Linked DNA regions of Homo sapiens. The protein of the gene in region 3 interacts with the protein of the main gene of each other region in a pairwise test. Each region holds a gene or a part of one and is shown on either strand. Other genes may lie near its edges. The genes, in order: SLC38A7, FAM3C, AQP2, MS4A13, TMEM218, TMEM97 and LEUTX.

Region 1 (4,584 bases), on a different chromosome or scaffold from region 3:
GAGACAGGGTTTTGCCATGTTGGCCAGGCTGGTCTCGAACTCCTGGCCTCAAGTGATTCACCCACCTTGGCCTCTCAAAGTCCTGGGATTACAGGCGTGAGCCACCATGCCTGGCGGACGCCCAGCTAATTCTTTAATTTTTGTAGAGATGAGTCTCACTATGTTGCCGAGGCTGGTCTTGAACTCCTGGCCTCAAGCGGTTCTCCCATCTCAGCTTTTCAAAGTGTTGGGATTACAGGCATGATCCACTGGGCCTGTCCCCTAACACTCATTTCTCTCTTTTTTAGAGACAGGGTCTCACTCTGTTGCCCAGTTTGGAGTGTAATGGCATGATCATGGGTCTCTACAGCCTTGATCTCATAGGCTCAAGCGATCCTCCCACCTCAGCCTCCCAAGTAGCTGGGTCCACAGGTGCATGTTACCATAACCTGGCTAATTTTTAAATTTTTTGTAGAGATGGAGTTTCACCATGTTGCCCAGCCTGTCTTGAACTCCTGGGCTCCAGAGAACCTCCCACCTTGGCCTCCCATAGCTGAGATTATAGGTGTGAGCCACTGTGACTGGCCTCATCGCTTTCTAATTTTTTTTTAACTGTACTATCACACTGGTCTTTAAGTAAACAATAATACAAATAAAAATAATAACAATAATAATAGTAATTAATTTTTACAGGCTTATTTTCTGTCTCCCCAGCCAGGACATGAGCCCCAGGAGAATAGGGATTTGGCTGTTTGCCTCTCTTGTTCCTGGCTGTGTATTCAGAGGCTAGAACAGTATTGGCCCAGGCAGCTCCTACGGTCTATCCGTGGAAAGAACTCAGGGGATCCTTCTTCCAGGGTCTCCTAGACTTGCTCCCTCACCCCAACCACTCTCCACACGGCAGCCAGAGCCACCTTTCCCCGAACCACCCCCCTGCTTAAAACACTTCCTCGATGACTCCCAGCAGCCCTCGAGGCCCAACAGGATCTGGCTGCCAGTGCCTGTCTGGCCTCACTGCCTTCACCTGCCCCCATCACACACCACTCCAGCCACATAGACTTTCTTCCTGGCCCTGCCTCAGTGATTTGGTGTTTTGTGGTTCCTCTGCCTGGAACCCTTCTTCCCCAGCTCCTCCTCTTCTGGCTCTTTCTCATCATTTGGGCCTTCTCTGAGAAGAACCTTCTGTGAACCACTCCCAAAGCCACCCATCCAGTCCCATTCATACCTTCCCCATTTTAGGCTGGGTTGGTGGCTCATGCCTGTAACCCCAGCACTTTGGGAGGCCGAGGCAGGAGAATTGCTTGAGCCCAGGAATTCAAGACCAGGCTAGGCAACATAGTGAGACCTTGTCTCTGCTAGAAAAAAAAAAAAAAAAAAATTAGCTGGGCACAATGGCACATGGCTGTAGTCCCAGCTACTCTGGAGGCTGAGGCAGGAGGATCACTCGACCTCAGCAGGTTGAGGTTGCAGTGAGCTATCATCATGCCACTGCACTCCAGCCTGGGCGACAGTTTCTGAGACCCTTTCTCAAAACAAAATAAAATAGAATAAAACAAAACACACCTTCCCTATTTCACTGTCATCAGGATGCTTGCCACCATCTGGAATTCCTTACTGATTCCCCAGTTACTCCTGCATGACTGTCTCTCCAACAAGAATGTCAACTCCATGAGGGCAAGACCAGTTCTGTCTCTCTCCATGGCATCCCCCATGCTGAGAACCGTTCCTGGCACTTCCTAGGCACCAAGTTAGAACTGGTGAATGAATGGATGAATACACCACTCTCATCTTGGCAGGAGGAGGCTCCAGGCAGGCCAAGTTCAAGCCAATGCCTATACAAGTCATGCTGGGAATGCAGGGCTGTCCCCAGGAAAGCTAGGCCCCAGGACCTAGGGACTCCTGTGGAAGTGAGAGCACTCTAGTCCCAGGTCTTGGGGGGGGGGAGCACTCACCTGTCCCCATGTAGACAGCGAGGGCTATGACCATGGCAGCTGTCACCACTCCACCCCAGGTCTTCACTTCAGGCTGCTGCATGCTGTTGAAGACGGGCACACTGCTGACGTGGCACTGTCCAGGTGAAGGGCACCGTCATGGTGGGGAAATGACCTCAACCCCAGTTTCCAGAGGAAGGTACCTTGGGAACAAAGACCCCAGGAACAAGGGGCAAGTCCTGAGGCCCCTGTTCCATCCTTCCCCCCAGGATTTCCTCCATTCTGCCTGGGTTCCTCCTCCTTGCTGGGTTCCATCCCAGGGTGGGGTGATCTAAGGGGACAGCAGGGACCTTGCAACTGGCACTGGCACCTGAAATCCGAAGCAGATGGTGGGCATGGCATTGAACACAGCCATCCAGGAAGCCGGCCTGTGAACAAACACACATGGTGCTGCCACCTGGGAACCCCTCAGAGCCACAACCCACCCCACGCCCTCACTCTTCGGTCAGCCCACCATGGTCTCCAGCAACTGGGATTCCATAGCTTCAACCCACAGAAGTCTGGGAACAGGGAGAAGAGGCATCCTTATGTCCCAGGGCCCTCTGGGATGGGGCCTGGAGGTTCAGAAAAGCCCCCCTGGGGCCAAAATCCAGAATTCCTGGCTCCTGGACTGGGGCTTTTGCTTTACTGGTTTGTTCCTTTCAAAAGAAGGAAATTGTTTTTTTTGTTTTGTTTTGTTTTGTATTTTTTTGAGATGGAGTCTTGCTCTGTCACCCAGGCTGGAGTGCAGTGGCGCGATCTCGGCTCACTGCAACTTCTGCCTCCCAGGTTCACGCCATTCTCCTGCCTCAGCCTCCCGAGTAGCTGCTACTACAGGCGCCTGCCACCACACCCGGCTAATTTTTTTGTATTTTTTAAGTAGAGACGGGGTTTCACCGTGTTAGCCAGGATGGTCTCAATCTCCTGACCTCATGATCCGCCCGCCTCGGCCTCCCAATGTGCTGGGATTACAGGCGTGAGCCATTGTGCCTGGCCCCCCCCCTTTTTTTTTAATAATAAATTCACCCTCAAAGATACAGAAATTACAGATAAGCAGATGCTGGAAACACAGGCAATTCGACCCTGGGATTCCACCCTCAGGTTCCTCCACAACCCAAGGCCTAGCCTCACACTGGCTCATCTGTTGGATGTAGGTGGCAAAGTGCCTCCTGTCTCTGATTCTTGCTCTTCCTTCCAGTAACATCAGAGCAGGGGCTCTTTCCTCCTTCCTACAATGACCAAGTCAGCCCTGATGAGCTCATGAGCCTTGAGAAGAGCACCTGTGTGGCCTTCTGGTTCCTGACCCAGCACCTGCTGGGGCCCAAGTGGTGGCTTCTTCCCCATGTCTCCTAGGGCCCTCACCCTCACCTGGTCAGGATGTTCCCTGGGGTCATCTCTTTATCTGGCCAGATGTACTTGATGATAACGATGGCTGTGACGTACCAGGTACCCACGACGCTCAGGAAGCTGCCGGGAAGGAGAGACTAAGTGTCCTCATCCCCAGCTGCCTCTTATCTGATTCCACCCCTAGGGACATCCACCTTCAGCTCTAGCGACCACAAGTGTCCACTGAATGAACCGGAGACTATGCCAAGCAGACTCAGGAAACGCCTGAGAAGTAGTTTCAGAGAAACCTGCCACAGCTAGGAAGGAGCTGGACAGCCAACAGGGGACCTGATCAGCATTCCTGGCCATCAGGAAGTGCTGGTTCAGCTCCATGGCTCAGAGACGATGCAGAGAGCAGAGCTCCAAAGCACACCTGGGACTTGAATCAGAGCAGCCCAGCCCGGGCAGGGGCTGTGGGAGACCATCCTCTGAGCCTGGCCTTTGAGAACTAAGAGATGCCAGAGGTAAGAGGGTTGAGAGTACAGACACTTTTGTGTCAACATTTATGGGAGCCTTGGAGAGAGCGGAGCATGGCCCCTGCACTTACAGACGGGGAAGCCTAGAATCCCACAGCCTTTCAGACACCGAGACAGGAAACCAGTCTCCTTCCTTCATGCCAAGCTGCAGGTAAGATGCTGGTAGGCTGACAGTCTCAAAGACCCAAATTCCTCCCAGGGAATGCCAGGAGGCTGCCTTCACCGCCCAGATACCACCTGTTCCTTCTTTGACAAGGGCACTTAGAACTGAACTACTCATGGATGCAAAAGGACATTTAGAACTGAATCTCTCATGGATGCATCCTTTTTCTATGATGGAGACAGAAAAGGATGGTCTTATCTGAAACCCTGCAAGCCCCGGTCTGCCCTGCCTTGCCTACTCTTGCTCCCCAAGGTGAGGTGGCATGGAGGAGCAGGGTTCCCCAGGAGCCCTTGGGTCTACAGCTGCCCAGGATCATAGCTTCTGTCTGACCCAGGCTGGGGCCTCCAAACCTGGCATATTTCTGGAAACCAATCTCCCTGGGGATGGAGAGGGGCAGGATGAAGAGGAAGGCAGTGAGGCTGATGGTGAACTTGCGGTCTGTGTACCAAGGGCCGCTGGCCCCCTCCGGCTCTTTCGCCATCACAGCTATAACTGCACAGGGAGGAAGGAGGGAATGTCAAGCCAGGCCACCATGGGGTGTGGCCCTCCTGCTCTGCTGGGCCCCAGGACCTCCCTCTGCCTGGAGGGAGGATTCCCAGATGAATGCTGG
Region 2 (4,015 bases), on a different chromosome or scaffold from region 3:
TAGCTCTAAATTTACATGGATTTATTGCTGTACAAGAGGTTGAAATAATTGAAGAGGTTTAAGTGACAAATCTCCCTAATCAACACAAGTAATTTATCTCTCTCATATTCCTTTGAAACAAAGTATTCTAAATGAATTTCCACTTTTAATTGCTCTACTAACTGAACATGGCACATTTTGCATTCAATTAAGGGAGAGTTTGTTGACCAAACTGAATGAAATTATAACTTTTTTGGTCAAGTTATTTAAAATTTATGTAAATTTTTAAAGTATAAAGTGCAACAGGCTAAATGAACTCAGCTTTGATCTGTCATAAAATTATAACATAGCTGATTCACTTAAAAACAAGTCCAATATAGAAAGAACAATGATAAATTTCCCATTAATCCAATTAAATTCAGGAATATAAAGACTCTGGTTCAATCTTCCTTTAATTTCCCAAATACCACTTATTTTCCTGCTTTCTCTTGTTCAATTTTAACATTCACATTACAATACACTTATTCTGGGACAGCATCGGATTACAAATAAAAAATATGCATCGATAAGCCCATAAGCACCATTTCAAATACTATGTCAATGTTAATTTGATTTTAATAAAGAACATTCTTAATATTAAATGAGCACTGTTTCATGTCTAAAACCGATTTTAAAGAGGTATCTGAAAATGTAGTATAAAGTTATTGCTTTCAAAGTTAAGTTGGCACAATCTATACAAGATTGAACTGAGACAAAAGGAAACCACACCAGTTAACATAACCAATCTTTGTCTTCTTTTAACATTTTATATATCTGGAAAAGCTATCCTTTTACAGTCTTAATAAAAGGGCTTTTTCCGCCATCTAGATACTTAGCTTCTTACATGTTAAGACACATCTAGGATATTACTATTTTTAACCACAGCAACAATTTTTTTTCCAAGTTAGGCAGTATAATAAATGCTTGAAAAACCTTGTGTGAGTTTTTGTGAAGTTCTGTAGGTATATTACTTTGCCAGATAATACAAAAAAAAAAAAAAATTCACAAAGCAAAACCAAGAGTATTTATTTTCATTATTTTAAAAAACTGCAACATTTATTTCACAATCCCTGGAACTGTAAAATAACTATTCTTTTAATTTACAGAATTGAGGGAAGTATTTTAAATGTCAAAATACACATGCTGAATGTGATTTAGCATATAAGCACCAAAAATCCCAAAAGTATACAAAGATTGTTTAAACATATAAGGTGCATTTATTCATGAATTAATTACATTCAGTTTGAAGGAAGAAACAGTACTCCAAAGTTCATCAATATTTAAGAAATTATCCGAATAGCTTCCAACTTGGTTTACAGCTAAATAACAGATACTGCTTTTAGGTTTTTTTATACAATGCATCTAAACTTTAGGTTCGAAATTTAAGTGCTGCCTTACACTGTGAATGGCAGTTTGATCACTAAATTTATGTTCCAGTTTGAGATACTTCATACACAACATATATTTAATGCCCTGAAAACTTCTGCTTAAAAACTGAGTTATTTAGTGAACATCTGAAGGTAACAAAAAAAGATAGATCTTCTATATTTTTATGTAGAATTGGGTATAAAGTCATTTGGGGTCAAACACAATTATTTTTTAAATGTTATCAGTCCGCCCAGTAATAAGAACTTTTGTAAATATGCCACTATAGCTTCGGGCAATAATTGCTATTATGAAGTTAGATAAACACAGGATTAATTTCTTGGTTTACAAATCAAAATTATTGTGATATTAAAGCATGCCTCCTTCCAAACCACTTGGTCAATGCTGATAACAATTAAGAAAAACGTATGCTAGTATTGCTCTAAATATACTGACTTAGCTGTCCTGAATGACCTAATTAGGTTGGGGAGGGGACTTGGCCTGGTTCTCCAGTTCTGTGAAGCTGCCACCTCCAGCCTCACTCTAAATAGCTTATACAAAATCAAGTTATTCCCATAGCTAACACAAATCCAGCAAGCTGTGGTCCTAAATGCCATCTACATTTATATATTTACTTTTTTACTGTGTACATTAAGAATTTTGTTGTGCTTTTCACATATCCGATGTATGTTTTCATATTAAACATTCCTCAGTTTCTTGGGAAGGAAAGAAAAAGATCATGAAAAGAGGTACATCAGGAGAGTCGGACTGTAAAGTAACATTACACACACAACTAGCCAAATCTCTTTTTAATTTAAAAGATAATGTCATCACAACGCAACATATAGAAACATAAAAGAAAATAAAGTATCCACCCTAAAATCCCTATTATTCCATGATATTTTCATAGCAACTAGTATATATATCAATATATTTTTCACAAACCATTCAGTTACACATTGTGTATGCTTTTAGAATTTAAAATATGTATTACCATAGCAGTCTAAACATTGTACTTTTAGGGAAATGTGCGGAGACATGGTTCAGTGATTTGATCATTGTGATGATTATTTACAATGCTATCTATTTACGTTAGCAATAAATAATCCTGATATCAAAAGAGACAATACTCATGCACACACCAAGATGGCTGCATGCTCTTAAAATATTTACACATAGCTCTGCCATTTATAGCTCTCCCATTAAGAGTGAAAGTGCGCTTTCTTCAATTCTCTCCACATTTCCATTAGTCTTGCTTCTGGGGGATGCATCCTTCCATTTCTACAACTTCAGGCCATCCTTCATATTTGTTTGTATCCTTATTGTTCTTTATGTGCTATTGGAACACAGTAATAATATACAGTTTAAAAAACCGTTGTAAACTGCTGATTTGCCGTAACATTTTACACACTTCTCATTTCAGTAATACTCATGTCAACAATAAGTTCATTTAAATTACTGGTCAAGATATTAAATGAGTGACCCTCAGGCTGTATCACATACATGGCAGACCTTCAAATAACAGCTGAAAGAATACATTGCACGTGCTTTTAAAGGATTATTTGCTACTCAAAAACTAACATTTACATTCTACTAAGTTCTAAAATATTTCCAAACTTCACTGATTCTAAAATCCAAAGCTCAATTAAAATCCTTAATAACTAAAGCTTCCGAAAAGGCTTAAGATAGGTAATCCTATTCCAATGCATTGTCCTGTAGGAAAAAATATTCCCATGCAGAATTTTCAAGTTTTGAAATTTAAAAGTACGATAGTTATTTCAAATAACTGATTACCAAGAATTTATGACAAATATATGATCATATTTACTATCCGCTTTATCTAATTTTCAAATAGCTGGGATGGGAAAATGTACCGTAAGGTTTCACAGAATTTGTTTTTGTTAATTCTGAGAGTCTATGACACTAACCTGTTCAAAAGGGCTTTTTGTCTTAATGCCCTTCCCACCACAGAAGACCCAGTTGTCTCTAAAACCAAGATTAGTAATAGATGTGCTCCCCAAATCAGCAATGAGCCGCCGTGCCTCATCATTGAGTCTTGAAGAGGGAGAGAAAGAATACAACAATAAACAGAGGGAACTGTATGCTAATACTGGTTCACTGGGATATTAACACAAAACATGAGACAAAATGAGACTTTAAATAACAGAACATTTTGGAAAATAATTTTTTTTCAGAGTTACATTTCTACTGGTTGAATTCTTTAGTGACAAAAGACATGAACTCCAACAATTAATTTTAAGTTTATTCTATTAAAAGGACCTGTTAGGTTTTTATTTCACAACAATTCACCTTCATTTAACTTTTTAAATTACACTCATCAAATAAATAAGGGATACCACAGTTAGTAGATGCCTATCCAGGCTATCCAAGGTCTTAAGCAATCAATATTTTTATAAAATTAATCTTTTTGAATCTCCACTAAACCCTCTGTAAATTACATTTGACCAGAATAAAGGTAAATGCTGACAAAAATCTGTATGTTTCTAACACTATGTTTTATTTAAAAGAAAATGAATTTTGAGAACAGATATATAAATTGTACTTCAGTGATAACTGCCAAGTGGTTACTTAATAAAAATGAAAATATTAACCACACAGCAGCTAAATGCCT
Region 3 (5,153 bases):
ATATCCGAAGGTCAGGAGAAGTGATACATGAAACCACAAAAGAAAGGAGTAGGCCAGGCACGGTGGCTCACGCCTGTAATCCCAGCACTTTGGGAGGTCGAGGCAGGTGGATCACAAGGTCAGGAGTTTGAGACCAGCCTGGCCAATATGGTGAAATCCCATGTCTACTAAAAAAAAATACAAAAAGTAGTCGGGCATGGTGGCATGTGCCTGTAATCCCAGCTACTCAGGAAGCTGAGGCGACAGAATTGCTTGAACCTGGGAGGTGGAAGTTGCAGTGAGCTGAGCCACTGCACTCCAGCAGTGGGGAAGGCATGTTCCCTGGGTGGGGGCAGAGGCACACCCCAGCCAGACCCCTCTGAGTCCTTGTCTCTTCCTATGTGCAGAGTCTGGAGGTGGGCCCCAGATGCCCTTTATATGACAGGGGTTGGGGTCCCCCTCTCCGTCGATCTTCTCCCGGAGGACCCAGAATGCCTGAAGTTGGGAGGGATGGCTGAGGGAAGAGTGCCAGGGCACCAGGTGTCTATGTGTCAGGCCAGGAGTTAGGCACTGGAAATACACAGGAGAACAAACCCCACAGGAATCCCTGCTCTTTTGGAACATCACTTCTGTATGGGTAATTTTTATTCTTTCTTCCTCCCCTTCCTCTTCCGCTTTCTCTTCCTCCTCCTTCATAATAGCAGGAGTCACGAGTCCCCATATATATATGTATATGATACATTCTCAGTTGCAAAATACCTTCCCGTTCATTATCTTACTGCATTCTCAAAACAACTTTATGGGGTAGGCATCCACACTCCCATTGTCCAGACAAGGAAACTGAGGCGCAGAATGTGGCTCGGTAGTGTGGGGTGTGGCAGAAAGCTCCAGACCAGGCTCCAGTCCCAGCTCAGCCACTAACCTGCTGGAGCACCCTAGATAAGTCACTCCCCTCCCTGGGCCTATACTCACCCCTCCTGCCCACCCCACATCCCCATGATACAACACAAAGCGCTCCACTCCAGTCTCCAATCTCTCCCAGATTTCTGTTCCTGCGACTGTGACTTGCCCAGGGACCTGCTGGACAGGAGCTAGGGCAGGGTGCAGAAGCCCGTCCTTCTGTCCCCACTCTGAGCCTGACCCTGCTGTGAATCCCCAGGAGAGGGAGCGAGGCTGGAGGGATTAGGGAAGGGCCAGTGAGTGGGGCTGGGGAAACTTCTAGACTTGAACGCCTCCAGGACCCCAGTGGCCACAGCAGCACTGATAGCAGGAGGCAGCACTGCCCAGATGCTGAGCTGAGTGGGCACCAAGGCCAGAGAGCTGCTTATCAGGCATCACAGCCGCCCCGAGCCTGCACAGCTCACTGCCCCACAGAAATGTCTTTCTCCTGTGGCCAGAGCGGCCCTGAGCTCCTCAGGGTTTCTAGGACCTGTCACAGCTTCTGGGACCCCAACAAATGAGTGTGCAAAGACCTGTTCTCCTCAAAGTGCAAATAATACTGTAAGTAAGGGCTGATATTCATTGACCACCTACTGTGGACGAGGCGCTGCTCTGAGCACTTGACATACATTGTTTCATTCAATCCAAACCCCAATCCACTAGGTCAGTTTTATTCTCCCCATTTTACAGAGAAAGACAAGAAAGGTTAAGTCACATAGATGGAACAGGCTGATGCCAGAATGGACACCCTCAGCTTCCTCAGCCGCCCCAGGTTGACTCCATCACCAAGGGCCAGGGTCCCAGTGCCCCCAGGCTCTAGGAGCTGCTGTTTGGCTGGGGCTCCCAGGAGAAGGTGAAGCTTAATGATTTATGGGTGATTAGCTGCAAGAATGCAAGCACAGAAGACACAAACCTTTATGCCTTGGAAATTTGTCACAAGCCAACCAGTTGTTTTCCATCCCTGTGAAGCAGGAATAATTGGAGGTCTGACAGAAGAACTTCCCAGTTACCAGAAGGAGCAGCACTCATGTTCTCTCTTAGTTTTGTGTGAGGTGTTGCCCCTGCCTTGGTCAACAGTTTGAGTCAGAGAGATGGGGGCCGGGCACAATCCCCACCAGACGTTCCCATTCACAAGACCCTGTGGGGGCTGGGAGACGCCCTGGGGCAGCAGCCCTGGGGTAACCAAGGGAACAAACACGGAAAACCAGGGACGTCAGTCCTTATCTGGAGCTCATTAAATGGGGAACATTAGTCAGCTGTGAAGGCCAAGATAGGGTGATAGGCCTGTGGGTGGGCTGGGATGGGGCATGGGGGCAGAGGCCGCCATGGAGGAGAAGAGGTATTGGCCTCAACGACTCCACCTCCCCGCCACGTGCCCAGATCCGGGATGGAAGGACCCTATAAATGCCCACAACCCAGCCTCCCCAGAGGCCTTGAGAAAGAGAGCGATAGAGTGCGAGAGCGAGTGCCCGGAGCATCCTGGCCCTGAGACAGCTGGGCCAGCCCCGCAGGGCTCTGCAGCATGTGGGAGCTCCGCTCCATAGCCTTCTCCAGGGCTGTGTTCGCAGAGTTCCTGGCCACACTCCTCTTCGTCTTCTTTGGCCTCGGCTCTGCCCTCAACTGGCCACAGGCCCTGCCCTCTGTGCTACAGATTGCCATGGCGTTTGGCTTGGGTATTGGCACCCTGGTACAGGCTCTGGGCCACATAAGCGGGGCCCACATCAACCCTGCCGTGACTGTGGCCTGCCTGGTGGGCTGCCACGTCTCCGTTCTCCGAGCCGCCTTCTACGTGGCTGCCCAGCTGCTGGGGGCTGTGGCCGGAGCCGCTCTGCTCCATGAGATCACGCCAGCAGACATCCGCGGGGACCTGGCTGTCAATGCTGTGAGTAGCCACAACTTTGCCATCCACAAGGGGCAGGTCCTGGGGAATCCCTTGTAAAGGATGAGATGGGAGGGATGGGCTCTGGGTGATGTAGGGAGAGAGATGGAGACAGAGGCAGAGAGAGAGGCTGGAGCCAGGAACACAGCCACCATAGGAGGGTCAGGATGAAAGGAGCAATGATACCAGAGCAAAGCAGGATGCAGACAGACTGCTGGCTTCTTCCACCCTGACCGTCGTGCAGGAAGAGCCTCATCCAGGTTTCTGTTGGACTCAACGCCTACATTACAGTGAAGACAGGGCTATACCTCAGCAGGGGTTGGTGTCCCGAGCAGACATGCTTTCCAAGCTGCGGGGAGCCTTGGAGTGATCATCACAGGGTTCTCAAGAGAGAAGAGGGGCCCAGCATTTCTTCTGCTTTGAGGGTTTGCAGGTCCCGTGGCAGGTGCTCCTTACAGGCCAGGCACGGACACACCACAGCCCTGCAAGCAGCAATGGGCATACTCACTTCTCCAAACCTTGAGGAGGTCCCCGGAGCCCATAAGCTGGCTGCTGATTACATGATACAGGCGCTAACTGGGCCCCGTGGGCCCTTTGGGAGCTGAGGGTGGTGCCACAGTCCCTTCCCCCATGTCCCACCCACTTCCCCTCTCAAGTCTGTGTGGGCCCTGTGAATCCAAGGCCCATGAATGTGGAGGAATGACCTGTGCCCCCAACAGATCAACACTCACTCTGTACCCCCATCCTAAGCCAGGACAGTGAGTGCCTCTTTTGTGCTTGTTTCCGGTAGTTCCCGGCCTTTTCCATCCTTGAGCCACTGGACAAGAGTCCTGATGTCTTTGATGAGTCCCGCACAATCTCTGTGGGCGCCCCCTTCTCTGCACAAGTGGCCCTTCCTCATCTGTGGGACAGAGGTATCCCAATTAGGGAACTTCTCTGCTTTGTTTTGTTTTGTTTTTGAGATGGAGTCTCACTCTATTGCCCAGGCTGGAGTGCAATGGTACAATCTCAACTCACTGCAACCTCCACCTCAGGCCATTCTCTTGCCTCAGCCTCCCATGGGATTACACGCCTGTAATCCCAGCTAATTTTTGTATTTTTAGTAGAGACAGGACTCGCCACGTTGGTAAGGCTGGTTTCAAACTCCTAACCTCAAGTGATCCACCCGCCTCAGCCTCCCAAAGTGCTGGAATTACAGGCATGAGCCACCACACCCAGCCTCTGTTCTTTAAAGAGGAAAATATGACAAGGCTGGGGGCCAGGGGCCAAGGAAAGGCTAGGTGGGCAAGCAGAGGAGTGGGCTCATTTCCTCTGAGAACAAAATTAGTTCAGTTTGCAGCAAGAAGAGGTCCAGTTAGACTGAAAAAGGAACTTCCTGAGAGCATGACCAGGAAGTCCTTCTCTAATAGCAGGGCACTGGGAGTGAAAGGCCATGGGAAACATGCAGTCCTCCTCCTCCATCATTTCACAACTGACTGGGGCCCTCAGAAGAGAAAGGTCTGGGAGGGCTCCTCCATGCCACTTCTCAGCATTTACCACCTTGAGGACCTGGGGAGAACCCTGCCTGGATGGAATGGGGCAGTGGTGGGACCAACTTGCTCTGAGGCTAAGGAGAGCCAGATGACCCTCAAGACAATCCCAAGTGTCCTTTGAGGACACTGAGAGCCAGCCTGGCCACCAGGAAGTTAATCATTGACATGCACCTGCCCTGTGCCAGGCCAGCTATCATCTCATCATTGGTACAACGCTATAAGGGAAATTCTGTGGTTCCCCCTATGGTGAGTGGCAAATTGAGGCTCAACAGCAATTGATCAAAGTCACAGAACCAATATGTCATTTCTAGTCCTCCCACAGTCCTCCAGAATCCATTTTCTTATCCCATTTCACAGAAGGAGAAACTGAGGCCAAATTAAGTAGTCCCATGGCAAGTCAGAGGCCTCCAAAGTGTCTGCTTCCAAAGCTCTTTTCACTGTCCTCTAGAGACTCTGCATTGGACAACAATAGGAGGGATTGAGGTTAGACCCTAGAGAGACCCAAGGGTTCTGACCTGATGTCTCGGACCCAGGGGTGGGGGTTCAGGGCCTGGAGAAAGAGCGTGGGAGCTGAGAGCTGTCACTGTTCCACCCAGTGCAGTGCCCAGCCCCAGAAGGCAGGGTGTAGGGTACAGGGTGACAAAACCCAAGGAGAAATCCAGTGCTGGGTGCGGCCCAGTTATGAAATCACCTCTTTACTCAGCCCCGAGTTCTCTCCTTACCCAAGGCAGGGTCTGCTGAGACCATGGGCAGCCTACATGGGTGTGGAGGCATTGTCCAACACAGCTCCAGGGCCCTTACCCCAACCTCCATAGGATGTGCAG
Region 4 (4,584 bases), on a different chromosome or scaffold from region 3:
TCATTACTGAAATTGTTATTTGTTTTGTTCTGTTGGTCAGACAAGGTGTTTCACTCCAATTTGTCCTCACTTTAAATGTGAGATTTTGTATTAACTTTGCTAAGGTCTTTTGCCCCACTAATATTTTATGATTCTGAATTTAAAGCCAATATAATTAAAATAAAACTATTGTGTTATCAGTAAAAATCTTCACATTTACTGGGCAACTAAATGGAAACAAGTTAGGTTTATTTATATTTAGCATTTTTGGCCTTAAAGCAAAATTTATGTAAGATGCAAAGATAGGCTATGTATGAAAAATTCTATGTTAAGCCAGAAATTACTAGGTGTCTACAATTTGAACCATATGTGTCAGTAGCAGAATTCTTTTGTTTATTTGCAAAATGGTTTTATTGTCCAGGATTATACTTTTCTTGTATTAAGAGAATCATTAAGTGGCTCTGTGCCTAATACATAGACACTTGCCACTGAAGCTTTCAAATTTTTACTCACTTTAATTCAGCAAGTCAAGAATTCAAACATTCTCTTAATATTTACTAAAACTCACAGCCTAGAATTATTTTTGATTTAAAATTTTCAATCAAGAGCTCACAACTAAATCAAAGAATTTCATGAGGACGAATAAAAGCCTCATCTTACCTCCTAAGATTTCAAAATTATTAAAAAGAATAATTTTAAAATTAATATGTTCCCATAGAATTGGTCACTTACTGCTTGTCCATAATTCCTGTATGACACAGAATTAAAATGAGACAACTCTATTATTGTTAGAGTTACTGCAGTAATTGTAGTAATTATGCAGATGATGTTTATGATTAAAGTACTTATAATCTGAAAAGGAGACAGAGGGCAAATTTATTATATTCAGAATAAACATTTTGGTGTAATAGTTTGCATTGCTGAAAAAACTCATCTAGTTAAAACTTTGATCTAGTTTCTGAAGTCTTAGAAGTATTAAATATTAAGAAAATATTTTTCTGATTTATATGAAGCCCAGTTAATCTGGAGGAAACATTAACACCATCAGTCCATTAATCATTAATCTTCCATTTAGGCTAAAACATATTGTATTTTTTGGGGCCGGGCGCAGTGGCTCACGCCTGTAATCCCAGCACTTTGGGAGGCCGAGACGGGTGGATCACGAGGTCAGGAGATCGAGACCATCCTGGCTAACACGGTGAAACCCCATCTCTAGTAAAAATACAAAAAAATTAGCCGGGCTTGGTGGCGGGCACCTGTAGGCCCAGCTACTTGGGAGGCTGAGGCAGAATGGTGTAAACCCAGGAGGCAGAGCTTGCAGTGAGCCGAGATTGTGCCACTGCACTCCAGCCTGGGTGAGAGAGAGAGACTCCATCTCAAAAAAAAAAAAAAAAAAGTATTGTGTTTTTCAATGTTATAGGTCATTTGGAAGAAAGCATATAAGATATGATTTGGACAAAAGTGGTTCCACTGTAAGAAAAAAAAAAAAGTGGAAAATGACTGCTTGTAGAAATAGGAGTCAGTTGATAAAATTTTAATCCTGGGTTTTCATTATCTAAGGAAATCTATCAGTATCTTCAGACATCATTTTTTTATCTGTAAAATTATGAGGGCAGACTAATTTCTAAGGTACGTTTTAGCTCTAAGATTCTAAAGTGTTCTTCCCAATTCTATCCACCTATACCATGCATGGATCTTTAATCTGGACCAATTCTGTACTTTGTTACAGGACACAATCTTGTTCCCAAACTGGATAGTTCAGAAAATGAAGTTTTACAGTAGTATAATGTCTATATCTAAAGGCATTAGGTCCTATTAAAATTTTTTAATTATAAAGTTTACACAATGTTAAAAGGCAGAACATCAAACAAAACAAAAACTATATATACATTTAGAAACCTATACATAAAGTAATCATGATTTTAACCAATACAGTATATTTGTCTATATTAAATTATGTTCTTCTAGATTCATTCTTAATTCTTTCATTTACTTTACAGGTAGGGTAGATTCCTTCATTGTTTAGACGTTATATTTTCATTAAAACTTAATATTTAGCTTTGTGATAAGTGATTTCTAGAGATACCTCAAACATTTCAACTTACTCCAGATCGAGTCGGATACTTTGTTACTCTTATTAGGAAGACTCCTGCAATGATAAACTGGATATAAAAACATATTTATAAATACTCATTGATAATGCTTGCCAATTTAGAATGTACTTTTAATAACTCTCTTGTAAGTCAATTATTTTAAGAATGCTAATAGTAACAAAATATACAGAAGTTTTAGTAGATGGGTCAGGACAAATTTACATCATGTAGTAATACATTGAAAGGTAATAGTAGAGTCACTCATAACAGAGACACATAGGGGACAGTGGGCAGATTCACACTGTGATAATATGCCAGACAGCCTAAGCAGTCCTGACCGGGAACCAAGTTTGCTTTTATGTGTATGAGATACATCATATATAACTCATTTGATTATTGCTTTTAATGTTATCCTTCCTAATGAGATGATGACACTACTTATGATTACTATGTACATATCCAAATATGGAAAAAGTGGTTCAAGAATCTATTCCATATTGTGATGGTACAAAATATGCAGTCTCTTTTATGAGATTGTAGTCATTATTAAGGTAATGGCAGAAATTCATGCCTTTGCCTTTGTTTTTTAAAACAGAGGTTCCATTATTTCATGTCAGGAAGTCTGTCTACTTCCAAGAAGTATAAAACTATGCCATATTGTTTGAAGATGGGTTGCACAATTTCCTCAAAGTATTCCTTATTTGTTTTATTGATAAGACACTAAAGATCCAAGTCAAAGGCTATTTTTGTCATGCTATACACTATATGTAGGAAGCCCAAACCTGAAGCTTACAAACTTCCCATGGATAATTTTAAATCTATTTGTTCAGCACTTCATTCCACAACAAAAGCTGAGATTTCTAAGGAGGTACACAGTGAACGTAAGAACTAGCTCAGAATTTAAAGTGAAAATATCTTGTGAATTTTGAATTAGAGTGCTCTCTAATGAGATTATCTTTCGATTACTATGTGTTTTACAAAATGCCTTTCAAAGTTTAGGCTTAAGTGAGAAGTTTAGTATTAAATTACATTTAGTTGAAATTTTAGATAAGTTATCCTAGGAGTTTAATATACTATTTTTATAATATGAGTGGTCAAACACTAAGGAAAATGCATCATTTATTTGGATTTTGTTGGAAAATCCACAGTTTTTCTCCTCTTTTTTAAGGTAGTGCTTTGACACTTGTGACCCAGTGCATCATTTATCATTTATCACCTATGAACCAGTGCATTATTTATGAGCCATTCATCTTTTATGAACCATGTATCATTTATCTGGATTTTGTGCAAAAATTCAATATTTTTCTCCTATTTTTTCAAGGCAATCCATTGACACTTATGAATTAGTGTATGTATAAAAGTGGGAGACCTCCTAGAGATCATTGTTTCTTCTAGTGATTAATTGCTGTCTCAATGGGCAGCCATATTGTATCCTACAGCCCTCATTCCATCTGTTCGAAGTGTGGGATAAGTGGTTTCCTTGCTCATTATTGCTATCCAACCATTCTTTCTCCTCCACCTTTGAATCACATGTCAGTTTCTATAACTCACTATCCTTCATGGTTTAAGTAATCTATTGACCCCTTGGCCATTCCTCTTTTCGAATGAATTGAAATTTTGACTCTCTGATTCTCTCTCCAACATCACTTAATATTTGGTGATTTTTACACACACACACAAACACACACATACATATATATGTGTGTATATATCTATATATATACATCTATCTATCTATCTATCTATCTATCTATCTATCTATCTATCTGTCTGATCTTTTGATATGGTTTGGCTCTGTGTCCCCACCCAAATCTCATCTTGTAGCTTCCATAATTCCCATGTGTTGTGGGCGGGACCCAGTGGGAGATAATTGAATCATGGGAGCGGGTCCTTCCCATGCTGTTCTTGTGATAGTGAATAAGTCCTATGAGATCTGATGGTTTTAAAAATGGGAGTTTCCCTGCACAAGCCCTCTCTCTTTGCCTGCTGCCATTCATGTAAGATGTGACTTGCTCCTCCTTGCCTTCTGCCACAATTGTGAGGCCTTCCCAGCCATGAGAAACTGTAAGTCCAACAAACCTCTATCTTTTGTAAATTGCCCAGTCTCAGGTATGTCTTTATTAGCAGCATAAAAATGGACTATTACAATAAATTGGCACCAGGAGTGGGGTGCTGCTGAAAAGATACCCAAAAATTTGGAAGTGACTTTGGAACTGGGTAACAGGCAGATGTTAGGACAGTTTGGAGGACTTAGAAGAAGACAGGAAAATGTGGGAAAGTTTGGAACTCCCTAGAGACTTGTCAGATGGCTTTGACCAAAATGCCAATAATGATATGAAAAATGAAATCAAGGCTGAGGTGGTCTCAGATGGAAGATGAGGAATTTGTTGGGAATTAGAGCAAGGTGACTCTTGTTATGTTTTAGCAAAGAGACTGGTGGCATTTTTCCCTAGAGATTTGTGGAACTTTGAACTTGAGAGAGATGATTTAAGATATCTGGCAGAAGAAATGA
Region 5 (4,584 bases), on a different chromosome or scaffold from region 3:
CTATTTCTGTTGCTTGCTGTTTACCTGTATGTTTTTTTAACTTGTGTACTTAGCTTAAAAAACATATACCTCCTCCAAAACAAAATCACTGTAGAATGCTTTAACTTTGAACTATCCTTTTCCATCTACCATATAACTGTTGAGTAATATTTAGTCCTTTCTGATTTTTAACCCCTCAAAAATTGTCATTATTACAGAAATCTTTACTGTCAATATTTCTTAATAATTTTCTCACCATGCTTCCTGTATCTCATACCTCCTTTCTTGGTTCATTTTCCTTCTTGCTGAAGTATGTCTCTGAGTAGCCCTTTCACTGAGGATCCTTGAGAGGTGTACTACATTTCACCCTTTGTATGTCTGAAAACATCTTTGTTTTACACTTACTCTTGAGGGAGTCTTGCATGCCAGCCTGTGGGTTTAGTTTTGTCTCTGCTGGGATCCAATGGGTTCTCACTTTTAGTCTAGTTTTCATGTTAATCTTTCTATTTGGGATTCCCATATCACATCGGTAGTATTGAATCTCACACATGGATATGATGTGAGGTGGGGATTCAGATTTCTCTTGGGCTGTTGTTTTTTGACCTGTGGCCTGAAGCACTCAGCCAGCTTCCTTCCAACTAAGTCAGTAGCAAATTATTTAGACCCTATTTCAAAAACTGGTCAATCCTGTGAGGGCCCAGCTTTCTGCATTGTTCTCATTGCTAGTTCTTTGCCATCGTGGGCTTGAGACCTTATCTGCCCTGAAGAGAATCACCCTGAAGGTCTGTATCAGGCACCAGGACCCTCGTAGACTTTTAGGCTCAGCTCAGGCCTTGAGTTACATTTTTTTATAGCACTTAATGATTTTTCTTTATTGCTTTCGAGCTCTGCTGTGTACTAAATTCTTCTTGTTCTATTTTATTGAACATTTATGTGTTTGCTGTTGTATGAGGCACTTCCCTTGTTAACTTCCATCCAGCATATTGACCAGAGGTTACAGTCATCTTTCTAAAACTCCATATGATCCTTTCACTCCCTCACCTGATGTTTGTGGACTTGTTAGCACTGTGTCATTTATTCCTCCCACAGATACTTGTTGTGCATAATCTCTGTGCTAAGAACTGGGGTTACCACAGTGAGAAAGATATCAGGTCTCTGCCTTCGTGGAGTTTACTATTCTAGTTGGACAGACAGAAAATAAACTTGTAAACAAATAAATGAAAATATTAACTAGTTTTGTGAAAAATGCTCTGAAGGAAATAGAGTGATGGAGAGTCAGTGTTTGAGGGGTTACTTTAGAGAAGACACTCGGGGAAGACCTCACTGAAGAGTGACATTTAAGCAGAAATCAGAAGGCTGAGGAAAGCCAGTCCTACAAATAGTAGCAGGAGTGCTTGGGGTTGAGGGCTAGTTCCAGGCAGTGGAAACAGCAAGTACAAAGACCCAGAGATGGGGAAACCCCGGGCGTGTTAGAGTGACCGAGATGGCGCCCATGTGGCCCTAATGAGGGCAGACTGCTCCCCAGAGAAGTTAGGCATGCAGGTGGGCCCCAGGTCCCATCTCCCCTCACTCTGTCATCTTTTCACTCTGATTCTTTCCTAAATGTGCCTGTGCAGAGTATTTCCTTTGTAAAGCCCCTCTCACTATTGCAGTTCCCACTGCACTTCGCTTTTACCATTAATCAGAATGTAATATGGACACTTGTTTTCAGGACAATGTTCTCCAATAGACCTTGAGCTTCTGTCAGAAGATATCTTATTCACCTTTGGCATCCCCAGCTTGTAGCGCAGTGCTTTACATGGTGGGAACATCATAAATGTTGATTCAATAAACGTATTTTTTTTACCAGTTCATGCTTAGACCCTCCTTTCCAATAACTTTATAACTTCTCATAGCTAATATTTTCGTGGTATTTAAACCATAAGGGTAAAGAAAACCAGCAACCTAGAGGAATGTGTTTGCTTAAGACTTGTCTCCAATGCTGAAAAGGAAAACCAGGAGAGGTAGTGTGGTGTGCTGTTCCTCTGCTGTGAGTTGAATGGTGGTCCCCAAAAATATATGTCCGCATCCTCACCCCTGGAATCTGTGACCATGACCTTGTTTGACAAAAGGGTCTTTGCAGATTTAATTAAGTTAAGCATCTCAAGATAATACTAGATTATTTGTACAGACCCTAAATCCAATGACAAGTACCGTTATAAGAGACAGAAAATGTGAAGACAGACACAGGAGAATGCCATGGGAAGATGGAGGCAGAGACTGGAGTTGTGAGTTAAAAGCCAGTGAATGGTGCCTGGAGCTACCAGAAGATGGAAGAGGCAGGGAAAGATTCTCCCCTAGAGCACTGATCCCCAATCTTTTTGGTACCAGGGACTGGTTTCATGGAAGACAGTTTTTCCACAGGGGGATGCAGGGGGGTGGTTTCCGGATGAAACTGTTCCACCTCAGATCTTCAGGCATTAGATTCTCATAAGGAGCCTGCAACCTAGATGCTTCGCACGTGCAGTCCACACTAGGGTTCGTGCTCCTGTGAGAACCTAATGCCGCTGCCACTGATAGGACAGGAGGCGAAGCTCAGGTGGTAAGGCTGGCTTGCCTGCTGCTCACCTCCTCCTGTGCGGCCCAGTTCCTAAAAGGCCATGGACCAGTACCAGTCCATGGCCCAGGGGTTGGGGACCCCTGCCCTAGAGCCTTTGGAGGGAGCACAGCCCTGCTGACACCTTTATTTTGGATTGCTGGCCTGTGAGAAAATAAATTTCTATTTTGAGCTGCTAATTAGGAAACTAATAGATACCCCATCGCGCTTATATCTCACTTACCCATCCTGTAACATGGCTATAGTAATACCTTTCTCAGAAGCTTCGCTCCGGGATTCAATGAGATATGTTTGTACGGCACTTAGCACACAGTGAATGTTCAAAAATAGTGATGGCTGTTCCTCTTCTTTAAGGACTGGGAGTTTTCATCCTCTTGAATAAGAACTCGACAACAGAGTGGGAACTTTCTGTCTTGTGATCCATTGCCTGGTGAGTCACAGCTCACACCATGGATTTAACCTGAGAGCTTCAACTTCTGCTTTGGCCCTGGAGTTCCCATGCCCTGGTGTCTTCTACCAGTTCTTAGGTAGGGTTTTATATTCAGAGAGGGTTCAGCTTTCTCCCGTGGGCTGGGGGAAGAGGTCAAAGTAGAACTCAGGTACCAAATTTGAAAGGAAACACTCAGAAAAAACTTCTGAGCGCAGAGCGGAAAACACCCTCTCAGTCCCCACCAAAGAGAAAGGCTTTGGGTTCTAAATTTCCAGTTTCCATTAAGGGACTCTGGGACTGGACATTTCTGAAAATTAATGACCTGTACTGAGTAATCCTCCTAACACACTGATCATCAAAAAATAACCTGTAATGAGTTTAGGCTTTCTGTATTTGTCTGAATGCTTTCACGGGAGTGTGTTGCACTGGAGCACAGAGGACACTCGATCGTGCGGCGCGCAGGGCGGGGGGCCGCCGCTGCCTCCCCGCGGGATGGCTGGCACTGTGCTCGGAGTCGGTGCGGGCGTGTTCATCTTAGCCCTGCTCTGGGTGGCAGTGCTGCTGCTGTGTGTGCTGCTGTCCAGAGCCTCCGGGGCGGCGAGGTAAGGCATTCTGTCCAACTGGGAGTCCTAGGTAAAGCAATTAGAGGCAAAATCGCTGATGCTCACTAAACATTTAGAATTTAAGAGATCAGTTTTGTAATTACTGGCAGTTTGAATGAGTTGCATTTTAACCTCTTTTTATAAACACTAACTGTGTTATTTATGCTCTGGAGCAGAGATGGGAGGAGAAGGAAGTAGTGTTCTTGAGTTCTAACTGTGGCAAGAAACTCTGCTTTCACTGCTTATTGAGTTTCTTGAGGCTGTATGTGTATGTGTTTATGAATTGTTCAGATTTATGGCAGAGGCTTGGTCCAGTACCCGAGGCTCTAGCCCTGGACCCAGGAAAACGAAAGCAACATTTGATGAGTTGGGCCTGCTTTCTATATCAGGCATTGCCTTCAGAACAGGGTTAGGCCATAAACCGACTCTGAAAACACTAGAGTTGCACTCTGGCAAGACAGTGTTAGTATGAAGCAGAGAGTTGTAGAATTTTCTAAAGTATTCTGTTCTAAAAACAACAGAAGTGGAGGTGGAGAGGGGATGCTTTGGTTTTTCTTGATTATGACTTTGGGCAGAAGTAAAAATAAAAACTACACATTTCCATTCTTAGGAATTGGGAATTACCAAGAATAAATGGGAATGCACCCAGCTGGTACCTGTCTAGGAAGAAGGACTTTGGGATGAAGAGGTTGTTGACAGCAGGCCTCTGGACATTGTTAAGGGACTGAAACATAGAATATTGGCTCCAAGGAAGAGACTGTCCAGACCTAACTGATCAAAGAAGAAATTATAGACAGTGCTTTTAATAATTTGTCTTTTTAACCCCAGGTTCTCTGTCATTTTTTTATTCTTCGGTGCTGTGATCATCACATCAGTTCTGTTGCTTTTCCCGCGAGCTGGTGAATTCCCAGCCCCAGAAGTGGAAGTTAAGGTAAAGCTGTTGCTTTCGTTTTGCCTCCTGAGCTGTGATTCTTATT
Region 6 (4,577 bases), on a different chromosome or scaffold from region 3:
CTCGGGCTCCCAAAGTGCTGAGATTACAGGTGTGACCCACCGTGCCCAGCGTCAGCTTTATTTTTTTAATGCTGACTTACTGCAGAAGGCCCAAGGGCCAGTGCAGGCAGCATCTGGCCAGAACCTGTGTGTGTGTGTGTGTGTGTGTGTGTGTGTGTGTGTGTGTGTTTGTGTGAGATTTAGGCATTAGCACGGGCATCCTGGGTGTGTGTGTATCTGTGTGTGTGATGATGTTTGAAGGCATTAGCTCGGTGGCATCCTGGCATGGAAGGTCTGTGCCTCCATTCTTGTTGCTTTGGTGTAGGAAATGCTGATTTTGTTGCTTCTCTATGGGGCAAATAATAATAAACGCCTTGAGTTATTCTCATATTCTCTTTGAAAAATGCCAAAATTTAACATCTGTCATTTTCTTCCTGAAATAGAAGGAATGTTTCCCTAGAGTTAAAAAACCTGTAGGAGATCACCTAGTGGTTGGGCTGAAACATGCACAATAAATTTTTTTTCTTGGATTGCACCAAATCACTGCTTGGAAAAACTCATTTTTTTATTTACTTTTTGTTTTTCTTTCTTTTTTTTTTTTGATTTTGTTTTTGAGACAGTCTCTTGTCGCCCAGGCTGTAGTGCAGTGGTGCAATCTCGGCTCACTGCAACCTCTGCCTCTCGGGTTCAAGCAATTCTCCTGCCTCAGCATCCCAAATAGCTGGGATTACAGGTGCTTGCCACAACGCCTGGCTAATTTTTATATTTTGTTATAGATGGTGTTTCACCATGTTGGCCAGGCTGGTCTCAAACTCCTGACCTCAAGCGATCTGCATGCCTCAGCCTCCCAAAGTGCTGGGATTACAGGTGTGAACCACCACGCCTGGCCTGGAAAAACTCTTATTTTATTATGAAACAGTAAGAATTTAGTTTGGATAAGAACATGGTAAGGAGAGGATGGGAAGCATTTTGTAGTATCATTTGCAGCTGGGTAACATTGCTTCTGGTAAAAATAAGGAAAAACAAGTGAGCATCTGGCTCTGAAATCAGTCTGTGTTCCCATTCTAAATTATAGAAGTACAAGATTGGTGAGTAGCAACCACTGGTTTAGAGATCGTGCGTGCAGGCCAGGTGAATCTTTTATGTATAACAAGGGTGGGTTGAGTCAAATAGAGTCAGGTATAAGTGGAAACAGTTTCATTACCTTTGGTAGGGAGGCCATAACTAATAATTTTTAATGACCAGTCGTGAGCTGCGATTTTAATGGGATTAAACTTGAATATCTCCAAATATGTATTAATTACATTCAATTAATCATTATGTGCTAGCCATTATTTTAAAGACTACATGTATTAAGTCACTCTCTTACCAATAGTGAAGTAGGCACTATTACTGGCTCTATTTTATTGATGGGGACACAAGTGTAGGGAGATTAAAGGCCTTGCCTAAAGCCAGGCACTCTACCCCAGGTCCTACACGCCTCACCCATCTGCCAGGTGCCTGGGCTTTCTACTCTCCTACTCACAATTAGTCCCAGCCTCATTCTGGCATCAGGTGGCAGGTATATGACTGTGGGCAGATGGTTGGTTACGATTATGATAATTCATTATTACGACATCTGGGTGATTGTTTTTTAAATTTTGCTGATCTCATCTTGTAGGCCTTAGAAATTAAAGTGCTGTACAAGTCTGCCTCAGTTTATGAAATAGTTGGATCAGAGAGGTTGTAAACAAATTGAATAGAAAGTGAAGTTCAAATGGCCAGAATGCCTTTTTTTTTTTTTAATTTTTTTTTGAGATGGAGTCTCGCTCTGTCACCCAGGCCGGAGTGCAGTGGCTCGATCTCGGCTCACTGCAACCTCAGCCTCCAGAGTTGCTAGGATTACAGGCGTGAGCCACCACACCCAGCTAATTTTTGTATTTTTAGTAGAGACGAGGTTTCACCATGTTGGCCAGGCTGGTCTCAAACTCCTGACCTCAGGTGATCCACCCGCCTTGACCTCCCAAAGTGCTGGGATTATAGGCATGAGCCACCGGGCCTGGCCCAGAATGCCTCTTAAATTTTGCAGTCAGGCCGGGTGCAGTGGCTCACACCTGTAATCCCAGCACTTTGGGAGGCTGAAGCGAGGATCGCTTGTGCCCAGGAGTTCGAAACCAGCCTGGGCAATGTGGCAAAACCCCGTCTCTACAGAAAATTAGCTGGGCTTGGTGGCGCATACCTGTAGTCCCAGCTACTGGGGAAGCTGAGGTGACAGAATCATCTGAGCCCGGGATGTTGAGGCTGCAGTGGGCCGAGATCAAATCACCACACTCCACCAGCCTGGGCAACAGAGACTGTCTCAAAAAAAATAATAATAATTTTATAGTCAATCTTTTAAAGCAGGTAGTGTCATCCAGTATTTTTAAAAATCTAAAAAGCAAAAAAGGGATCTTAAGAAAACATCTAGTCCAAGTTGCTCATTTTACAGATGAGGAAGTAGAACCCTGGAGAGGGACAGTGACTTAGCCTTTGTGTTTCTTATCAATTCAATCCTATTCAAACCACATTCCCATCCAGAAAAGTGCTTAGAAGGAAGCGAAGGGCATTGCTATGAATTTCAATTTCAAATTAAGTACAAATTTGGATATCCTTTGGTCAATAAATTGGTTATCTAGCCAAAGCCTTTCTGAAATTAATAATATGCTAACAGGATATTTGTTTCTGGATGTTTGCTTAAAGTGCTCTTGCAGCAGTGGGGCTTCTATTTCACAATAGCGAGGCTTTATCTTTTGATTAAAAATTAACAGGAAAAATATTCTTGGATTTTCCATTGTAAGTAAGATAAATTCTTACCCTGGAGTTGCCTTTATTAATCATAATATCAAGACTTATTTGTCTTTGAAGGCCTGTGTGTCAGGGCAGCGCCACATCTAGGAGGTTAAATGTGACAAACGTTTAGTAGTCCACATAGAGCCAAGAGCACTAGGCTTTGGGCTCCTATAAAAGCCCAAGATGGGAAGCCTTAAACTCTGCTTCTTTTCTCTGCCTGTAGCCAGGTCAGCATGGATCCGCATCCTTTTTATTTGACAAGGTAATTACAAGCGTGGGGCCCAAGCTAGAACTGAGACGCTAAAACCCTGCATAACCAAGAAGCTACTAGGTAGTTTGTAGTTTGGGGCAGAGTTTGTTCTTCCACTAAAATCCTGTCTCCTAAAATAAACCAAAAATTAGAATTAGGGGAGTTAAGGAACTTGTTTGTCATATTGGAATTAAAGTGTCCAAAATTACATCGCCACAGAGGTTAGATTTACTTCCCCTTTCACTCCCACCCCCACCCCGCAAAAAGAAGAGGGAAATTCAATTCATTTCTGCATTTGAGGGAATCTGGCCTTTGGAGGAGTTTGGTGTGTAGTTGCCATTACAAAAGGGAAAGTGTCAGGATGGTTTTCATGTGTATTTGTTTTTTTAAACAAAGAATGATATTGTTGACAGAAATGTCACATTTGTTCATTCAGCGAACACCCTGAGTGCCTACCAAGTGCCAGATACTTATTGTTGCTCCTGACAGTGGCCAACACACCTGGATGTGTTATCTTGGAATTATGAACAGATTCTGGGTAACACAAAGAAGGGGCTGGAAGAGTTGAGAAAATTTCAGAGAAGGGAACATTTGAGTTAGGGATAGTAAGTTTTTATTAAATGACCACCTAGGCTGTGTCACAAAAGCCAGCTGGACATGCCATCTGCTGCCGGGGTAGTGGGGGGTGGCTAATTAATGACAGGCTCCTCCAGTGTATTTTCAAATGAGCTAGCGCCGAGCCTGTTGAGGGCAAGTGGCTGTAATTCATCATGATCGTTTTCTTTTTCAGTTTAGAAACCTGCTGAAGTGGTATGCTAAGGAGTTCAAAGACCCACTGCTACAGGAGCCCCCAGCCTGGTTTAAGTCCTTTCTGTTTTGCGAGCTTGTGTTTCAGCTGCCTTTCTTTCCCATTGCAACGTATGCCTTCCTCAAAGGTTGGTAAATGGTGGGAAAATCCCATTTTTACTCAGAAATCAGGTCCCAGAAATCTTTTGGGAAAGTATCTCCAAAGGGAAGGGGATGGTCCCCATAGTTTGTGGGAGAATGCTACAGGATCTGGGGTAAATAGCCAGGGTAGATCTTGTAAAGGGACATTAGTGTGGCTCAGGCTCATGTCTGTGGTCAGCAGGCCTGCACGGCTGCCTCAGTCGTCTGGAAATCCCTTGCATACACATGAAGCCTGAGACCACTTAAACAATGAGCTTGTTCCCTTTTGTTTTGTTCCCCAACAGAATTAATTTCTCTTTTTGTTGGCTTTTATTTCTCTGCGTTGGATAGTATCATACTGACTTATAAGCTGTAGCATCAGGCTAATCCCTAATGTGCTTCTCATTTTAAAATTATTCTTAGTGTTCTCATATAATCAATGCTTTTTTAAAAAGGTGACCATACACGTGTACTTGATAAGCTAAAACCACTGAAAATGCTCGTTTCCCATTGGCACCCCCTGGGGTCACTGAATCTGCCTTCTGATCCTCTCACCTATATATAATTACTGAACAAACAGATGCCATGGGGCAGGGATTTCCCTCCCCTTGGA
Region 7 (3,553 bases), on a different chromosome or scaffold from region 3:
ATTATGGCCATTCTTGTGGTTTCGATTTGCATTTCCCTAATCATTTGTGATGTTGAGCATTTTTTCATGTTTGTTGGCCATTTGTATATCTTTTGAGAATTATCTATTCATGTCATTCATGTCCTTAGCCCACTTTTTGATGGAATTGTTTGGTTTTTTTCTTGCTAATTTGTTTGAGTTCGTTGCAGATTCTGGATATTAGTCATTTGTCAAATGTATAGATTGTGAAGATTTTCTTCTAGACTGTGGGTTGTCTAGAACTCTGCTGTTCCTTTTGCCATGCAAAATCTCTTTAGTTTAATAAAGTCCTAGCTATTTATCTTTGTTTTTATTGCATTTGCTTTTGGGTTCTTGGTCATTGTGTTGCTGTCTATCTCATTTCTTAGGTCTAGTGGATAAAAGGGCGTCCATTGTCTCCTAAAGTTTTTATTATTTTTTATTTATGCTCTCTATTTCACTGAAGATTTCTCCCCTCATTTCTTGTATCTTTTTTTTTAATTTCCTTAAATTGGGCTTCACTTTTCTCTGGTGCCTCCTTGATTAGCTTAATAACTGACCTTCAGAATTCTTTTTCAGGTATATCACGGATTTCTTCTTGGTTTGGATCCATTGCTGATGAACTAATGTGATTTTTTGGGGATGTTAAAGAACCTTGTGTTGTCATATTACCAGATTTGGTTTTCTGGTTCCTTCTCATTTGTGTAGGCTCTGTCAGAGGGACGGTCTAGGGCTCAAGGCTGTTGTTCAGATTCTTTTGTCCCACAGGTGTTCCCTTGATGTAGTACTCTCCTCATTTCCTTCCGAATTTTTTTAATGAAAGCCTTTTATCTGTTCCCTCTGCAGAAGGGCCAAGGCGTTATCGTCGGCCACGCACAAGATTTCTCTCCAAACAACTCACAGCATTGAGAGAATTGCTTGAAAAGACCATGCACCCAAGTTTGGCTACAATGGGGAAACTGGCTTCAAAGCTACAACTTGATCTATCCGTAGTAAAGGTCTGTTCCCAAGTGTGTCTGTAGGTAGCACGCCTAACCCAGAGCTTCACACACACTTTTGATCATTGTTATAACAGTTCCTATTTATTGGCAATTGCTATGTGTAAGGACAGATGTTAAGCACTTTATATTTTTATTGTCATGAGCACCCACTTTATTGAGGAACACTAAAGCTCACATAGAAGAGCTGTCTTCCAAGCATTATAAACACAAGAGTTGGAATTTGAACCCAGACCTTTCCAACTCCAGACCCACCATGCTACACAGGACTCTTTGAGGCTGGATCTCAGATACTCCCATTTGGGTCTGTTCTTGTGTATTCAGGATGGGTTCTGCTTAATCAGGACCATCACAGTCATCCAGATGCCTGTCACTAAGTTCCCACAAAGTATTCATGGGAGAACACCTGGATGAACCCTAAAGATGACCCAAGCTAAACTCTCACCCCATACTCTGACTTTAAAATACTTTCTCTGGGCACCAGGAATGGTGGCTCACACTTGTAATCCCAGCACTTTGGGAGGTGGAGGCAGGAGGATCGCTTAAGCCCAGTTTAAGACCAGCCTGGGCAACATAGCAAGACCATGTCTTTACAAACAAAAATTAAAAATTAACCAGACATGGAGGCACATGGCTGTAGTCCCAGCTACTTGGGAGACTGAGATAGGAGGATTGCTTAAGCCCAGGAGTTCAAGGCTGCAGCGAGCTATGATTGCAGCACTGCACTCCAGGCTGGGTGACAGAGTGGTAGCTTGTCTCAAAAAAAAAAAATACACCACTAATAAAAACACCCTTCTATTTAATACATCACAATCTAGGTCATATTCCACCCATTGCTAGTACAATCCTACACCCACTTTTCCCTTGAAACCCAGGACAGCAGAGAGTAGAAAGGGCTTCCCTTGTTCCAATAAATGTGAGACTCTCTCTCACACCAAAAAACCGAATTCCTGAGGAACATGAGGATGCCCCTTTATACTCAACATCCATTATTAACCTCCCCCCTCCTCCCTCCTTAGATCTGGTTCAAGAACCAGCGTGCCAAATGGAAGAGGCAGCAGCGGCAGCAAATGCAGACACGGCCATCACTAGGGCCAGCAAACCAGACAACTTCAGTGAAGAAGGAGGAGACTCCCTCAGCCATAACTACTGCAAACATTCGTCCAGTAAGTCCTGGAATCTCTGATGCAAATGACCATGATCTACGTGAGCCTTCTGGTATCAAGAATCCTGGAGGAGCCAGCGCCTCTGCGAGGGTTTCATCCTGGGATTCTCAGTCATATGACATTGAACAGATATGTCTGGGGGCTTCAAATCCTCCTTGGGCCTCCACTCTCTTTGAAATAGATGAATTTGTAAAGATCTATGACTTGCCAGGGGAAGATGACACCAGCAGCCTAAATCAATATCTTTTTCCAGTATGCCTTGAGTATGACCAGCTCCAATCTTCAGTGTAACTTCTTACACATCACTTCTAGGGGAGGTCTGGATCTGACCCACTGAGACATATTTCCACACATCTTTAATGGTTTGACCCCAGTCTAAGTAGATCAGGGGCTGGGAATTTATCTTTTTCTGTAGAAAAAACAATAAAGGAACTCCCCTACCTTTCATCATTGCCTGCATTTTCTGAACTCCATTTGAGTGCCTCCTCACCCAAATTTCAGCATTAAAGATTGTATTCAGAGAAGTGACGCCAGGAACACAGTGACATAGGAGGTTCCTGATTGATGGACTGAATAAACGTCTGTGCCTACATCAGTTCTCTCTGGAAGAAAGTCAGAAGTGAGTGGAGAGACTCCTACACACCAGGCAACTAAGAAAATGTCTTAGCAGGCCAGTCGCGGTGGCTCACGCCTGTAATTCCAGCACTTTGGGAGGCCAAGGTGGGTGGATCACGAGGTCAGGAGATCAAGACCATCCCGGCTAACATGGTGAAACGCTGTCTCTACTAAAAATACAAAAAATTAGCTGGGTGTGGTGGTGGGCACCTGTAGTCCCAGCTGCTTGGGAGGCTGAGGCAAGAGAATTGCTTGAACCCGGGAGGCGGAGGTTGCGTGAGCCAAGATTGCACCACTGCACTCCAGCCTGGGCGACAGAGTAAGACTCCATCTCAAAAAAAAAAAAAAAGAAAAGGAAGAAAAGACAAGAAAAAAAATGTCTTATCAAACAGGCAGCAAAAGCTGAAGCACTCAGAAACACTAAACCCACCCTGGGCACTGAGCCATACAATCAGGAAGGAATCCCCAGTTCCCAGCTTCTCCCCCAGGAGAGAAGCAGTGAACCACACATATAGCACCCTAACAGTTGATGGTTAAGTTCCTAACGAGCCTGCATCAGGGAGTTGACTAGGTAGGTAAACTACAGACTTACAAGAGCCTGAACAGAAGCTAGGTGCCACCCAAAGCTTCACCCCAGCTCAGCCCAGCAATAAATCCAGGTCTATCAATTCCTCCTGGAAGAAGTTTGTCCACACATTGAGCACCCCAACTTTTATACCTGCACTCAAGGGACTGCATCCTAAATCCCCTAGCTCTGGAAATGGAAGGGATTAGGCA

Evidence for each region.
Region 1: the proteins of AQP2 (region 3) and SLC38A7 interact in binary tests that used the Homo sapiens proteins (3 or more experiments, as listed by UniProt).
Region 2: the proteins of AQP2 (region 3) and FAM3C interact in binary tests that used the Homo sapiens proteins (3 or more experiments, as listed by UniProt).
Region 4: the proteins of AQP2 (region 3) and MS4A13 interact in binary tests that used the Homo sapiens proteins (3 or more experiments, as listed by UniProt).
Region 5: the proteins of AQP2 (region 3) and TMEM218 interact in binary tests that used the Homo sapiens proteins (3 or more experiments, as listed by UniProt).
Region 6: the proteins of AQP2 (region 3) and TMEM97 interact in binary tests that used the Homo sapiens proteins (3 or more experiments, as listed by UniProt).
Region 7: the proteins of AQP2 (region 3) and LEUTX interact in binary tests that used the Homo sapiens proteins (3 or more experiments, as listed by UniProt).

The regions. Positions count from the first base shown.
Region 1 is NC_000016.10:58,674,009-58,678,592, forward strand, and holds part of SLC38A7 (sodium-coupled neutral amino acid transporter 7), read right to left. Parts: intron 4,467-4,584; coding exon 4,325-4,466; intron 3,417-4,324; coding exon 3,318-3,416; intron 2,339-3,317; coding exon 2,281-2,338; intron 2,114-2,280; coding exon of another isoform or gene 2,068-2,113; exon of another isoform or gene 2,047-2,067; coding exon 1,932-2,046; intron 1,716-1,931; coding exon of another isoform or gene 1,606-1,715; exon of another isoform or gene 1,526-1,605; intron 1,335-1,525; coding exon of another isoform or gene 1,306-1,334; exon of another isoform or gene 1,242-1,305; intron 1-1,241. UniProt on the Homo sapiens protein: Symporter that selectively cotransports sodium ions and amino acids, such as L-glutamine and L-asparagine from the lysosome into the cytoplasm and may participates in mTORC1 activation. The transport activity requires an acidic lysosomal lumen.
Region 2 is NC_000007.14:121,347,832-121,351,846, forward strand, and holds the end of FAM3C (protein FAM3C precursor), read right to left. Parts: intron 3,439-4,015; coding exon 3,312-3,438; intron 2,720-3,311; coding exon 2,630-2,719; 3' UTR 1,047-2,629; downstream 1-1,046. UniProt on the Homo sapiens protein: May be involved in retinal laminar formation. Promotes epithelial to mesenchymal transition.
Region 3 is NC_000012.12:49,948,391-49,953,543, forward strand, and holds the start of AQP2 (aquaporin-2), read left to right. Parts: upstream 1-2,346; 5' UTR 2,347-2,440; coding exon 2,441-2,800; intron 2,801-3,121; exon of another isoform or gene 3,122-3,279; intron 3,280-3,528; exon of another isoform or gene 3,529-3,698; intron 3,699-5,153. UniProt on the Homo sapiens protein: Forms a water-specific channel that provides the plasma membranes of renal collecting duct with high permeability to water, thereby permitting water to move in the direction of an osmotic gradient. Plays an essential role in renal water homeostasis.
Region 4 is NC_000011.10:60,521,454-60,526,037, reverse strand, and holds part of MS4A13 (membrane-spanning 4-domains subfamily A member 13), read right to left. Parts: intron 2,142-4,584; coding exon 2,085-2,141; intron 832-2,084; coding exon 712-831; intron 1-711. UniProt on the Homo sapiens protein: May be involved in signal transduction as a component of a multimeric receptor complex.
Region 5 is NC_000011.10:125,101,155-125,105,738, reverse strand, and holds part of TMEM218 (transmembrane protein 218), read left to right. Parts: intron 1-2,929; 5' UTR 2,930-3,005; exon of another isoform or gene 3,006-3,073; coding exon of another isoform or gene 3,074-3,102; intron 3,103-3,387; exon of another isoform or gene 3,388-3,421; coding exon of another isoform or gene 3,422-3,497; coding exon 3,498-3,607; intron 3,608-4,217; coding exon of another isoform or gene 4,218-4,295; intron 4,296-4,435; coding exon 4,436-4,538; intron 4,539-4,584. UniProt on the Homo sapiens protein: May be involved in ciliary biogenesis or function.
Region 6 is NC_000017.11:28,321,676-28,326,252, forward strand, and holds part of TMEM97 (sigma intracellular receptor 2), read left to right. Parts: intron 1-3,827; coding exon 3,828-3,972; intron 3,973-4,577. UniProt on the Homo sapiens protein: Sigma-2 receptor which contributes to ameliorate dysfunctional cellular processes and slow degenerative progression by regulating cell functions including cholesterol biosynthesis/trafficking, membrane trafficking, autophagy, lipid membrane-bound protein trafficking, and receptor stabilization at the cell surface.
Region 7 is NC_000019.10:39,783,684-39,787,236, forward strand, and holds the end of LEUTX (paired-like homeodomain transcription factor LEUTX), read left to right. Parts: intron 1-843; coding exon 844-995; intron 996-2,014; coding exon 2,015-2,452; 3' UTR 2,453-2,608; downstream 2,609-3,553.